4 linked regions of the Homo sapiens genome follow. The protein of the gene in region 3 purifies or fractionates together with the protein of the main gene of each other region. This does not show direct contact. Each region holds a gene or a part of one and is shown on either strand. Other genes may lie near its edges.

What was found. The genes of interacting proteins can lie anywhere in the genome.
Region 1: the proteins of MTMR2 (region 3) and MPP3 purify together in Homo sapiens (affinity purification with mass spectrometry, with the first as the bait; one large-scale study listed by BioGRID). This does not show direct contact.
Region 2: the proteins of MTMR2 (region 3) and SMU1 purify together in Homo sapiens (affinity purification with mass spectrometry, with the first as the bait; one large-scale study listed by BioGRID). This does not show direct contact.
Region 4: the proteins of MTMR2 (region 3) and XPNPEP1 fractionate together in Homo sapiens (co-fractionation; one large-scale study listed by BioGRID). This does not show direct contact.

What each region holds. Positions count from the first base shown.
Region 1 is NC_000017.11:43,826,647-43,830,146, forward strand, and holds part of MPP3 (MAGUK p55 subfamily member 3), read right to left. Parts: intron 3,486-3,500; coding exon of another isoform or gene 3,462-3,485; coding exon 3,381-3,461; intron 3,146-3,380; coding exon 3,008-3,145; intron 1,187-3,007; coding exon 1,105-1,186; intron 1-1,104. UniProt on the Homo sapiens protein: Participates in cell spreading through the phosphoinositide-3-kinase (PI3K) pathway by connecting CADM1 to DLG1 and the regulatory subunit of phosphoinositide-3-kinase (PI3K). Stabilizes HTR2C at the plasma membrane and prevents its desensitization.
Region 2 is NC_000009.12:33,066,675-33,070,174, forward strand, and holds part of SMU1 (WD40 repeat-containing protein SMU1), read right to left. Parts: intron 2,261-3,500; coding exon 2,150-2,260; intron 1-2,149. UniProt on the Homo sapiens protein: Involved in pre-mRNA splicing as a component of the spliceosome. Regulates alternative splicing of the HSPG2 pre-mRNA. Required for normal accumulation of IK.
Region 3 is NC_000011.10:95,847,608-95,851,107, forward strand, and holds part of MTMR2 (phosphatidylinositol-3,5-bisphosphate 3-phosphatase MTMR2), read right to left. Parts: intron 3,143-3,500; coding exon 2,993-3,142; intron 2,256-2,992; coding exon 2,067-2,255; intron 293-2,066; coding exon 107-292; intron 1-106. UniProt on the Homo sapiens protein: Lipid phosphatase that specifically dephosphorylates the D-3 position of phosphatidylinositol 3-phosphate and phosphatidylinositol 3,5-bisphosphate, generating phosphatidylinositol and phosphatidylinositol 5-phosphate.
Region 4 is NC_000010.11:109,868,012-109,871,511, forward strand, and holds part of XPNPEP1 (xaa-Pro aminopeptidase 1), read right to left. Parts: intron 2,894-3,500; coding exon 2,720-2,893; intron 2,019-2,719; coding exon 1,942-2,018; intron 702-1,941; coding exon 603-701; intron 1-602. UniProt on the Homo sapiens protein: Metalloaminopeptidase that catalyzes the removal of a penultimate prolyl residue from the N-termini of peptides, such as Arg-Pro-Pro. Contributes to the degradation of bradykinin.

The sequences.
Region 1 (3,500 bases), on a different chromosome or scaffold from region 3:
CTCTTTGTAATAGTAGCTTGACAAGACCTGGGATGGTGGGGAAGGGTGTCAACCCTGTCCCACAGTTAGTAATCCCGCAAGCCCATGCTATATTCTTAACTGTCACAGTCCTTGGACTAAACCAACGCATGAGCTTTTTCTCAATCACCCCAAAGTACTCCATGACTATTTATATATATATATATTTTTTTTTTTTTTCTTTTTTTTTTGAGACGGTCTCACTGCGTCGCCCACTCTAGAGTGTAGTGGTGTAATCACGGCTCACTGCAACCTCAAACTCCTGGGCTCAAACAATCTTCCTGCCTGGGCCTCCCGAACAGCTAGGACTACAGGTGTGGGCCACCCGTGCATGGCCTATATTTTCTTTTTCTTTTTTTCTTTTTTTTGAGACGGAATTTCACTCTTGTTGCCCAGGCGGGAGCGCAATGGCGCGATCTCGGCTCACTGCAACCTCCACCTCCCAGATTCAAGCGATTCTCTTGCCTCAGCCTTCCCAAGTAGCTGTGATTATAGGCATGTGCCACCAAGCCTGGCTAATTTTGTATTTTTAGTAGAGATGGGGTTTCTCTGTGTGGGTCAGGCTGGTCTCGAACTCCCGACCTCAGGTGATCCGCCCACCTCGGCCTCCCAAAATGCTGGGATTACAGGCGTGAGCCACTGTGCCTGGCTTTTTTTTTTTTTTCTTTTTTTTTTTTTTTTGAGACAGAGTCTCACTCTGTTGCCCAGACTGGAGTGCAGCAGCATGATCTTGGCTCACTGCAACCTCCGCCTCCCAGGTTTGTGTGTTTAGTAGAAATGGGGTTTCGCCATGTTGGCTAGGCTGGTCTGGAACTCCTGGCTTCAAGTGATCCGCCTGCCTCGGCCTCTTAAAGTGCTGGGATTACAGGTGTGCACCACCATGCCCAGCTGGCCTATATTTTCTATTAAAATTTCTACTGACTTGGGAAGGAGATGAGAATTCCAGCCACAACCCCAGAAAGCAAAGCAAATCCCAAACAGGTGACCTGATAGGAGGGAGGTAAGGGGACCTATTAGCAAAGGTGGAGGGCTCTGGAACAATGGCCATGATCGGGGCTGGGCCAGCTTTGCACTGCCGCCACTCACCGCTCCTGTCTGCTGCGCCTCCTCGCATGATCCTGGCCACCACAACAGCCCCTGAGTGCTCGTCCCGCCGGATGGTGGCACCCTGAACCCGAGACAGAAGAGACAGGTTCTTAAGCAGCAGCTCCAAACCTCAGACCCCTACTCTCTGGACCCAACACAGCCTCCCCAGTCCCTCCCTCTGACAGTCCAGAGAGATCAGTGGGGACCTTCCCAATGCTGAAGACAAAACAAAACCAACATCCCCCATTAATATAGCCCTGCACTGTACAGTTTACAAGGCACAATAATGCTGCAACATTTTAGATGAGGGACTGGGGCTCAGAGAAGTTAAATATCCTCAAGGTCACCCAGCTGGTAAAGGGGAAAGCTTTTTGTGATGCCAAATCCAGTAAGTTCTCCATCACATCTCTCTCATATCACAGTTCCTACCACTTGCAAAGACATTTAATAATGAGGATGACACGTGCCAGCTAATTCTCACCCTGCCTCTACCCAATCACAGGGTTACCGGGCCTTCTGCTGCTGCTGAGGGAAACCAATTATGCACCCCAGCCAGGGCTTCGGGACCAGGACTTGGCCCATGAAGCACAGCAGAGATGACACTTAGGATGAGAAAGGCACTAACGAGCCCTCGATTTCCTGCACCACACAGGCCGGACTGCAGCAGGACGGCAGAAAGCTTAAGAGCTAAGCTCTAGGGCTGGACAGCCTTGGGTGTGAACACAGTTCTGCCGTTTACAAAAAGCATGTGGACTTAACAAGGAAATCTCTTATCCTCTCCAAGCCTGTTTCCTGTGAGATGTGGGACAGCATTTAACTCACAGTGTTGTTGCAAGGATTCCACTCAAGGCACTTAGTACACAGTAAGCACTCAACATATGTTAACCACTTATTAGTGGCTGTAACTGCAAACACATTTGCACACTTATTGTTAACATCATCTGTGCCATCTATTTGAAGTACGTAAGATAATTATTGCTAGAAAGAGAGGCCATCAGCTAAGAACCTCAGGACTTCTAGCCCCCCAGAACTGAGAACTTTCCAGCATCGCTATCCATCATTTATTCAGCTCTGAACCGCCAGCACCCAATACAGAGCCTGGATAGGAGGGCTCACAATGTGTTTGCTAAATCAATGGATGGCCACTCCATTTTACAAGTGAGGAAACAGAGGCAGAGGAGAGATCCTCGTCTGTTTGCAGAAGAGGCTCGTCGGAGGTCATTTGGGGAAAGTTGGAAATAGAGAATGCCAGCTGTGGGATCCTCTGGAGCCAATCTCAATTCTCTGGGCTTCCACCACTTCTGAGCATCTCATAAACAACGCTGTCCCTTTGCTCGGTAAATCAATGCTGAACCAGGACCAAAGTGATAGCAGTCTGTCTGCTGGGGAGAGGAATGCCCTGTGCTTCCTCAACATTCAGAGCAGGCATTGTCACACGTTTTCTATAAGGGGCCACATGTAAATATTTGAGGCCAGCCACACAGTCTCTGTCACAACGACTCAACTCTGCCATCGCACTATAAAGGCAGCCACAGCCAATCTGTAAGTGAATGGGCCTGGTTGTGCTCCAAAAAAGCTTTATTTTAAAAAATAAGCTGTGGGCTGGTTTTGGCCCTTGGGCTGTAGTTTGTCCATTTCTGGCTTAAAGCATGATCAGGGTCACCCTGTACAATTGTGCAGGTTATTAACTACACAAAGGGTGTTGGCCACAGTTGAGAGGGGCTGTATCCACCTAGAGAAAGGGGTGCCCTGCACACAGAGGCACCACAGGGATGAGCAGCAGCGCAGGCAAAGCTGCCGTCACTCACTCTGAAGACTTCGGGGAGGATCTTGTCCAGTGTTCTGGGTGGGGGTGAGAGGCAGGGGAAGAGTGGGTTAGAGAGGGGCAGGCAGCAGCACCTACCAGGGGTTCCTTGTTCTTCACCAAGCGGACGATCTTCACCGATTCCTCATCAAAATCCTCATCGATATTGTCAGGCAGAGGCGGGAGAACGGGGTCAAAATTCTTCTGGGCAACCGTGTCATGTACCATGAGCACAGCCTGCCGGGAAAGCCAGAGAAAAGGAAGGCTGGCCCGCCGCTCACAGGGTCAGCAGGCCGCAGCTGGCCGGTGGTATGGAGGGTGGCAGACGCCATGCCAGAGAGACAACTGCCCAGACACTAGTGCTGAGGATCGCTCCCTCAGTCTCCACTCCTCAGCCTCATTAGGAGAGCTCCCTCCGCCCCCATCCCAGGAGACCCAGAGGCATGGCTGGGCAGGGGCTCTGTGTGACTACCCTCAGGTGCGGGGTGGACAGCAGCTGGAGCAGCTCCCTCTCATCACTGTGCACGGAGGCGGCCTGCAACTCCTCCATCACCTGCAGAGAATGAGACAGGCGCCACTGATGGCTAGAGGT
Region 2 (3,500 bases), on a different chromosome or scaffold from region 3:
GGGCACCTGTGGTCCCAGCTACTCGGGAGGCTGAGGCAGGAGAATTGCTCGAACCCAGAAGGCGGAGGTTGCAGTGAGCCAAGATCGTGCCACTGCACTCCAGCCTGGCGACAGAGTGAGACTCTGTCTCAAAAAAAAAAAGAAAACTGAGGAATCTATAAATAAGACCTACCAAAAAAATAAGAGACCCAAAATTCCCAGTATGAAGATGAGAGAAGTCCTGGTACAGTAACTGTGCAGCAATGCAAGAGAACTAGTCCTGATGGGAACAAAAAGAGAAGGGCCTCAGGAAAGATATCAGCAAGCGGAAAAAAAAGGACTTTTGACGGTTCTACTAGAAATACTCAGGCTGGACTAGCAGAAGTGCATAGAAAACTAGGCAAAAGAAAAAATAAGCAATAATTATTGCAAATCATAAAAATTTATGTAAGAAATTACATGTAATTATTTTTTAGCTGTGAACAATAGCTATATAAAAATAACTATGTAAACATTGAATATAGATTGAACCAAAAGTTGTGATACAGCTCTACTGAAAATCCAGAAGAAGAGTAAGTGTGTATTGAGGAGAGTGGGTATAAGACAAATCATTTTTCGCTGAAGAAAGTTAGTTGCTAATGACCAAAAAAAAAAAAAAAAAAAAAAAAAAATCAGGTAATAACAGTATAAACATGGTATTCAGCTATGGAGCTAAGTCAGGAAAGTTAAGAATCAGAGGTGGAGAAGGGAAGCACATGGGACTGTTTTTCACTGTAAGCCCTGAAGTACTACTTAAACGATGCACTGCTATTAGTTTGATTAAGAAATCAAAAAGCAGCTTACTTTTTTTTTTTTTTTTTTTGAGATGAAGTCTCGCTCTTGTCTCCCAGGCTGGAGTGCAATGGCTCAATCTCGGCTCACTGCAACCTCTGCCTCCTGGGTTCATGTGATTCTCCTGCCTCAGCCTCCCGAGTAGCTGAGATTACAGGTTCCTGCCACCACGCCCAGCTAATTTTTGTATTTTTAGTAGAGACGGGGTTTCACCATGTTGGCCAGGCTCATCTCGAGCCCCTGATCTCAGGTGATCCACCCACCTTGGCCTCCCAAAGTGCTGGGATTACAGGCATGGGCCACCACGCCAGGCCAAAAAGCAGCTTACTTTTGAATCTCAGAGTCACTGCAGGCCTGCAACAAATAGCTTTTTGGTCCTTTTCTAAATGCAGATTTAGTGCAAAAAGGTTATTAACATCCCTATTAATCACTTGTGCCCTTTGTTATTTATAATATATCTATTACTCTAAGTAGCTTTATAATAATGACCATGCTGGCAACACTATTAGTAATTTTTTAAAAAATCATCACCAGCAGCTACCATTTACTATTTACAAGGTGCCAGGAAATGTATAAAGTGTTTATGAACATTATTTCTCTTAATCCTTACTCTCAATACTGTGACGAGTAAATGGGACCAGAAAAGTTAAGTAATTTGCCAAGACTATATAGCTGGTAAATGAGAAAGCCTGGATTCTAACTAGGATGGGCATTTGTTCCAATCTTTCCAGGACAGTTACTATTTGCACTTGGTGTTCTGGCATAGGGATCAACTGTACTCTCAACGATATTCCAGACAGGATGATAAATTCTATGGTAACCCTAATTCTAACTGACTCCAGAGCTTGTTCTTAACCACTAATCTATATTGCCTCTCCCAGGAAAGAGGGAGAGTGGAACAGCACAGTTACTGGAATAAGCAACTCTGTAGGTAGTCCCCAATTCTTAGGGTGTACAATTTCTTCAGCTAAGACATAGTTTATACATAGGAAATTAGGAAATTGTACCAGGAGTTCACTTTTTAAATTTATTTTTATTTTTGGAGACAGGGTCTCACTCTGTTGCCCAAGCTGGAGTATAATGGCATGATCATAGCTGTCATCTCAATCTTCTGGGCTCCAGTGATTGTCCCACCTCAGCCTCCCAAGTAACTGAGACCACAGGCACACCCCACCATAACCCGCTAATTTTTTTACTTTTTGTAGAGACAGAGTCTCACAATGTTGCTTAGGCTGGTCTCCAACTACTAGGCTCAAGTGATTCTCCTGCCTCAGCCTCCCAAAGTGCAAGGATGACAGGTGTGAGCCACCACACCTGGCCTCTACAGGAATTGAATTACCTGTCCCAGCAATGCCATGAGACGAGATGGAGGCACCACACTGACTTCGCCAGCTAAGGCCTGGGCAATTGCTGCTCTTCTCTTTTCTTTGCTACTTCCATCTGGGTATGCCTGAAAAAGGAGAGGGTGTAGCATCATTTCCAAGAAGCAACAACAAGATATGAGTGTGCTTATTTAAAACAAACAAGCAGAAGCATACACAGAGGAAAATGTGAAAAGAAATTACCCAGTTAAAGAAGGGATTAGTTGAACTAATTTAGTTTTTGAAAATGACTTCCCAATTCTGCCCGCTTGCATTTCAAAAGTATGAGTTGGGAGAAAACTGAGGTCAGCCAATCCACACTATTATTATTTTTTCACTGAGTTCCTGGCCAAAGGACACACTGCTATTTTTCTGAAAAGAGTCCAAGTAAACCACATTAAACCCAGAGTTGTTCTTCCAGTTTTTGAAAAATTTGCAGAACCAAGAATTCTTTTATACTCTTTAGTAATTTCTTAAATGGCTCCCAGCACAGAAGTGCTTCACCACCTCTAAGTTAAATCCTGTCCTGGTAATCTAAAATCCTTTCCTTTATCCTCATAGATTTTGTAGGTTTACTCTAACATTCTATTATCCAGTGCCTATTAAGTTCTTCTTCCTCCTGAGAAAATACTTGCAAACTACCCATCTGACAAGGGATTAATAACCAGAATATGGCTGGGCAGGGTGGCTCACGCCTGTAATCCCAACATTTTCGGGGGCTGAGGCTGGCAGATCACCCGAGGTCAGGAGTTTGTGACCAGCCTGGCCAACATGGTGAAACTCTGTCGCTACTAAAAATAGAAAAACTAGCCAGGCCATAGTGGTGGGTGCCTGTAATCTCAGCTACTCGGGAGGCTGAGGCAGGAGAATTCCTGGAACCTGGGAGGTGGAGGTTGCAGTGAGCTAAGATCGTGCCATTGCACTCCAGCCGGGGAGACAACAGCAAGACTCTGTCTCAGAAAAATAAATAAACAAATAAATAAATAACCAGAATACAGGGCCAAGTGTGGTGGCTCATGCCTGTCATCCTAGCACTTTGGGAGGCCGAGGCGGGTGGACTGCTTGAGGCCAGGACTTCGAGACCAACCTGGCCAACATGGCGAAACCCCATCTCTACTGAAAACTCAAAAATTAGCTGAGTGTGGTGGCACACACCAGTAATCCCAGCTACTTGGTGGCTGAGGCACGAGAATTACTTGGACCCAGGAAGCGGAGGCTGCAGTGAGCCGAGATCACGCCACTGCACTCCAGCCTGGGTAACAGAGCTCTGTCTCAAAAACAACAACAACAACAACAACAAAACCCAGAATATATAAGGAGCTCAAACAA
Region 3 (3,500 bases):
TTGTTTAGAAAGGTACCTTCATGTTGATTGCAATTATAAGTAAAAAGCTAATATAAACAAAGGGGTAGAGAGAGTCTTTGTTTGGGATATAGTAACACACACCCACCTTAATATGTTCTAGCCAATGAGTAGATTCCAAGTTAGACAACCAGTGGGTTTCCTCAATGTTGGGGTACACAATCTCCTTAAGTTTTCGTAATGATTCTCTCATAACATGAATATTGTGGATATCCAGGAAAACTAGTTCAGCATTTTGATAGGCATCTTCACTTTCATAACCTCCACCCTTTGCCTGGAAAAAAGCACACATCATGGAAAATCATAAATGAATGCACATCTGTAAACAAGTGACATAAAATATCCAATAGCATAAAAGATGATACATATTACTGGAGACAAGGAAAACTCCACAGGAAAATGTGGATGGCTCAGGACAACTTATTTAGCACAACCACTCGCTTTCTTGTGTTCTTCTTTACAAAATGAATATATACGTAGTCTGACTTGCCCATATGGCCATTATTAAAATTAAATATGAAACACATAGGAAGGTATTTAAACACTGTAAAGCACTAAATTTTCCCAGCCCATACGCCAAGTCCTACCCAAACATAAGTTCTTACAGATGACTTCCTTTCATATATACTGAAATTACCAGACTGTAAGTTTCATGTGCTGAGACCACATGTCTGGTTCACCTATGCTTCTTCACCTCCCTGCCTCTTCACCTCATTTTAATCTTCATATCTGAGAAATAAACTCTTTGCAATCAAAATGACCTGCTTCTTTTTTAACCACATAATTCTCTTTAAATAAAAAGACAGAACAAGGATAAAAGCACAGAATGCTATCATCATCAATGTTCTCAAAGACTTAAATCTACATCTACAAAATAGAATGAGAAAATATTTGGTGTTCAAAATAAGCTATGGCTAGAAAGAAGAACCTTATTTTTCTGGACTTAATCTTTTTATATTTCATGAATAAAATATTCTATCTCCTACCTAACTCGTGTAAAATTATACTTCTTAGAGCCCTAATAGAAACAAATTAGGAAAATACTGGAGCAGTAAATTATACAAAATTAAGTGATTATATGACCCACACCTTTGAAACAACAAAACCACCAACTCATAACCAGCAACAAACTACTGAAAGAACAGAAGTTCAGCTTCCTTTCTGACACTGAGAGTCTGGGAAATCGTTTGGCACAATTATAGAATTTACAGTATTTCAAGGGATACCTGTTAAAGATTACTTCTGAAGAGTGGGAATAAGACAGGAACTTTCAATTCAAATTTGTTGCAACATTCTAGAAAGACAGCAGTGGTAACAACTATACAGAACCTGTCACCGAAACACATAGAATAAAAATGCCCTGGATTCAGGTAGTGGCATGGTTGTACAACTTTGTGAATATACTAAAAGCACTGAAATGTACACTTGAAAAGATGAGCGCTTTTCAGTAATGGTACCTGCTGCTGTAGTTATGTCTTCTCTCTCCTTCCCTCCTCCTATAGATTTGGTCAACTGAACCAAAATTTCAATTTCCACAATGCTAATATTTATTCTGCTGGAACAATCAGCTACAGCTAACTGCCAATTCTTCAGTCTGAATAACTTGTTCAGGTGGAGGACGGTCAGAAGAGGGCACCACTAGTCACCGAGAACACTAGTTCGCTATTCCTAGAGCAGTACTATACAGGGACTTCAGTGAGTCATAAGCTCAGTTAGTTGTCAACTTTGGAGAAGTGGGAAGCTAAGAATAACTGAACACCTAGTTATTATGTAAGTAAGCAAAAGTTTATGCATTATTTTTTATTAAATGATTTTTGCTCCCAAAACAACACTGTTAACTATTATTATTCTCATTTTTACCAATAAACAAATTGAGGTCTAAAGAGGTTAAATAACTAACTCAAAATCACACCATCAAGTTGAAGAGCCAAGACAAGAACCTATATGTTTACCACTGTAGAGCCTGAGCTCTTTTTACTACACTGTGGCCCTGCCAAACTCAGCTGATTCATGAAACCATAATTATAATTACTAAGAGACCATCTGACCTTGTTGGCAACAGCATTAACACTTGGCCGGGCATCAAATATAAAGATTTTGTGAGACTGGGCATTGGAATCCATGATAGCTTGAAGGTATTTTTCATCTTCTTTGCTTCGCTTTCCACTCACTCCAACCATGGGCTGGCTACACCGAGTGATTGTGGCTTGACTTTCAGGATGAATCCATGATAAAACCTTAATGAGGAAAAAATGGTAACACACCTTTTACATACTTCTCTGTTTATAATTCTCAAAAACAGTACTCAGTAAAGCTCTGCTTTCTAATTGGATCCAAAGCCTGGCCATGAAAGGACATCTGAGGCTGCTAAGAAAAATCATCACCTTTCCTTCAAGCCAATTCTGGGATGTGGAAAACTTGGTCTAATTCTTTAGTCAGATACTGATTTAGGAAAGTATTTGATTATTGGGAAATGTTATCTCCTGAAAAAAATACTGTGAAACAGGGCTAAGTAAACCCCACTTAATATATTAGTAAAACTGCTCAGTTCTAAAAGCCTTTAGAATCTATGAATTTTGTACCTAAAATTATTTAAGCTCATCTTTCTAAGATCCAGTTATAAATCTGTAAGGTGTTCTTTCTAGGACTTAAAAAAAAAAAAGAACATTTATCATCATGACTAAAGAATATACAATAAGATAAATAAATAGTGACTAATACACACAGCAAACTTTTTCAGTGAAGAATCATGCAATTCTGTGCAGTTATCTAATACCCATATCACACTCTCTGGAAGCCTCTTTAAGTCTTTCTTCCAGTTTTAACTTTACTAAATAAATCAATCTCCAATATCCCCATGAAAGACCTGCTGCTGTAGCTATTTATATCCTGAATCCATTCTCCTACTCATTAATCTCAGCATTATGTTGAGTAAAAAAGCACTTGCAAAGGCTCATCCAAACTTCCTACTTACTGGGATACGGCCTCTTGATCTGAAGGATGCCACTCTCTTTAATTCTTCATCAGGAATATTTGCTGGCACAACCAGGAGGGCAGGGTATGTATCACAAAGTTCATATCGTTCATTTATCTTTGTTATTCTCCAGCTTTCATTTGGAATTCCCTACATGTGAAATGAAACATAAGACAAATTACTATATAACTAAAATATTAAACGACACCAGGACAGAAGCCATCCTGTTCAATCTCTCTGACCTCTACTATCCATCTCCTAAAGTGTTGGGATAGTTGTTGTCAGCCTGTGGTATCAGGCTTTCAGGATTAGATATTCTAATGTAGGGATACGTATTCATTTGTGGAACCCAATTTGATGTTAATATAACAGACATTAATTCACTAAATATTCAGTGTGGACCTGTGCTAAGCATATTCAGGAGGTGGAAGGAAACAGTAAGACTTCAAATATTCCTTTTTTTTTTTTTTTTTTTTTTTTTGAGACAGAGTCTCACTCTGTCGCCCAG
Region 4 (3,500 bases), on a different chromosome or scaffold from region 3:
GAGTTAAGACCCATAACCCTCTGAGCTGGGCAAGTAAGCACTGTTGTGCCCCAGGCTTTGTGAAGGGTTTCACTGCCCCAGAGTGACCACAGTAGTAACCGAGAAGGGCTGGTACTATCTTTCTCCTTGTCTGTGTGAAAACAGGACATACGATAATAGATTTTGCTTTCCATTTCCTTAATGTTTCATGTAACACAAGAAAACAATCTGGTATGTACAGTGGCCAAGAGGCCCCACCATCCATCTGGCTTTTTGTAGGGACACACATAGGCTCATATTTGCTAAACACGCCTCACTGCAGCTATGGAGGAATAGTACAGCCAAACAATGGCATACGAGTTCCACCCACAAACCCTACAGCCCCAGAATGGCTGCGGGAAACAGGACTATCTCCACCTGGAGGCCCAACAAATACAGGAAAAGCTCAGGAGTCCTCAGAAAACCTAGGGCTTTCAGACTCAACTGGCCTAGACCTCTAAATTTAAAAATTACAAAGTGAGACTGGATTAGAGAATTTAGGATTTAGAGGATGGATTAGAACTATTTAAGGTAGTCTCCACCTCCCCTAGTAACATGCCTGCCCACCAAGACTTCCCCATTACCTCTTTGTCTGTAAGAGAATCCACATCTATCATTTTGGTCTGAATTGGAACCAATGTTAGAGGTTCAAAGGTCAGGCTTCCCCGGTTATTAAAATTATACTGCGGGAGAAAGAAGAAAACAGATGCTTTTACTCCTCTTTACTATGCTGAAGCACCATGAGGTCATTCCACCAGCATGCCATCCCTCAGAGCCAGGGGTAACTGGGAGCCAAGAAGTGGTGAGCTGGTCACCACTTTTCACAGACACACAAGGAACCTGATGCCATTTTCCAAGAGCTCCTCCACTGGGCAAACAATGGCCTGTGCCATCAGGAAAGGCCAAACAAAGGGTGCTGAGGGGCTCCCAGCAACAGGTCCCAAGGCTAATGTCTACTGTGATAGGAAACAGGGGCAGGATATGGGGGTATCTGGGCTTAGGGGCATCTCTGGTTTTGGTTCTCCAGGATGCAGGGGTGTAAGTCCTCAAAATCATTTTTATAACAGTCAACTGTGTGGTCTGCCTTGACCCAGCCAGGCCCATCAGGCGACAACACATCTATCCACTGGAGCACACAAGAACATGTCGGGTTTCTGTTCATGGCAGCTTTTGGGAATAAGATGGGAGGTCACTTCCAAGAATAGTGACTTCCATGCCAAAGCAGAGAGCAGATCCCCGCAGTTAACCTCCTTGTAGACACAGGAAGCTACTTCCCTCCAATTGTTCAATTCCACCAATGGAGGAGGCACAAACAGGTCTTTTAGGTAAAGCCTAGAGCCTAAAACCCTGCAACCTTGGTAACACTGATGGGGGAAGAGGGTGAAACACCTGTCTTGTATTGCCTTTGAGGCTGACCCATGGATAACTCAGGGTTCCTCAACTTTACCTAATAAAAGTCACCTGGGGAGTGTGACAAAATTACAGCTTCCAGGCCCCCCACCCTGGAAATTCTAGGGTCTGGGAGGGGCCCTGGAAATTAGCGCCTTGAATAGGCACCCCTAGCAGAAGAGACAACAGGCCGCCTATAGTAAACTCAGAGCCCCAAATCATGTGAAGCAAGCATCAGCCTGAGGGTCTGTGAATCCCAGTTCTAGATCCCAGTTCATTAAGGATTTTCTTTCTGGCTTTGCAGGGAAGGAGTGTGGTTTCCAGGAAAGTCCCTGATATCTGGAGAAGAAGGCTCCATGTTGGCCCCAGAATGGCATACTCTTGGCTCCAAAGACATTAAGTCTTCATCTTCCCACACTAAGAAACAGGAAAATTTTTAAGCTTTGCGCAGTGGCAGTATTGTAGCCAATGAGGTCTATCCGAGGCGTGATTATTGCTAATAGAAACAGGAAAATTTTTTTAATAAATCCTCACCTTGGTCTTCACAGGAACCACAAGGACAACATTCTCAATGCGAATTCCAAAAGCCCCATCTTCATAGTACCCGGGCTCTAAAACAAACCAAATCCCAAAAATGAGAAGCAGCCCACGATGAAGATGTCTACAGAGAGAAACTTTCACTCCTTGGATGACTGCCCTACTCCAAAGGAGAAGAAACGGGTGAAGAGCCCACTCTATCTGGTGTAAGAGCCTAGAGATGCCACCTTCTCTCATATGGCCACTTTTTTATAGGCACTTGAGGTGCAGAAAGCTAGACTCTGAAGTCCCTGCACACTGGCTACAGGGTAAGGAGTAAAGTAACAGTGGATCCACTAAATAAATCATGGTTCACATCCGTAAGACACAATAATGAAGGCATTAAAATATATTTACAAAGACTTGGCAATGACCTGAGAAAAGGCAATGTATCAAGTAAGAAAGCAGAACATAAGACAAGATGCCCAGTAAGATCTCAATGATTTAAAAAAAAAATGCTATCTACATACCTGAAAGACCAAAAGCTAATACAGTAAAACACTAAGTCATGTTTCCCCTGAGTGGTTAGATTGCAAATGATTTTCATTTTCTTTTTACACAGTTCCCATCTCATTTTTTCTAAAATGAACATGTATCAGTTCTATAATCAGAAAAGTTTGTTGGAAGGGAAAAGTATTGCCAATTTACTTTAAACTAATTAAAAAATACAAAACAACGAATAGCTTTCAAAAAGGCTCAAGGATCCACGCATGCCCTCTATGTGAGGGACACTTACCATCAGTGACAATCATGCCTGCCTCCAAGGGCTCATCAGAGAATGTTTTGTAACTGATGCCGCAAGGACCCTCATGGACATTCAAAAAAGACCCAACACCATGTCCAGTCCCGTGCAAGTAATCTAGGCCTGAATCCCATAAAGCTGAACGGGCAAAGGAGTCAAGAAGGTGACCTGAAAGACATAAAGAGCCACTTAATTGTATTTGTACAGCGCTTTAGAGATTAAATTTATTATGTGTGGCTCCAGAACGTGAAACAGAAACCAATAGGTAAGTTACTGGAGGGTTCAGATTTCAGCACAGCACAAGGAAGAACTTTCTAACAATCAGAGCTCCTGAGAAACCATCAGAGCTCAGTCTGAAGCTAGGCGATCATCCATTCAGGATGCTGGTGAGCGGGGATAGACACCTACAGCACACAGAGGCCGTATCAGACATGGACGTTCCCTTGCCAGCTCTGCGACCCTAAGGTTTCAGAATTACAAAGATGAGACTCTAACCAGACTGCAAGCAGACAGGCAGGCATGACAGATGAGGAAACTGAGGCCTAGGGAGATGAGTACATGTCTAATCTACCCAAAAGCAAGGCAGCCCAGGTCTTGTCAATGCCCAGTCCAATGCTCCACCCACCAGGCCTCAAGCAAAGTAGTACATAGCTGAAGTCAGGGTCCCAGTAAAATAAATCCTAAGAATCCCGAAAGGAAGCACTGGCCCAGTACTAAAGGGCAGACAGGAGGCTGCACCAACTTCCACTCAGGCCCTGTGACCTTCATATCTGGT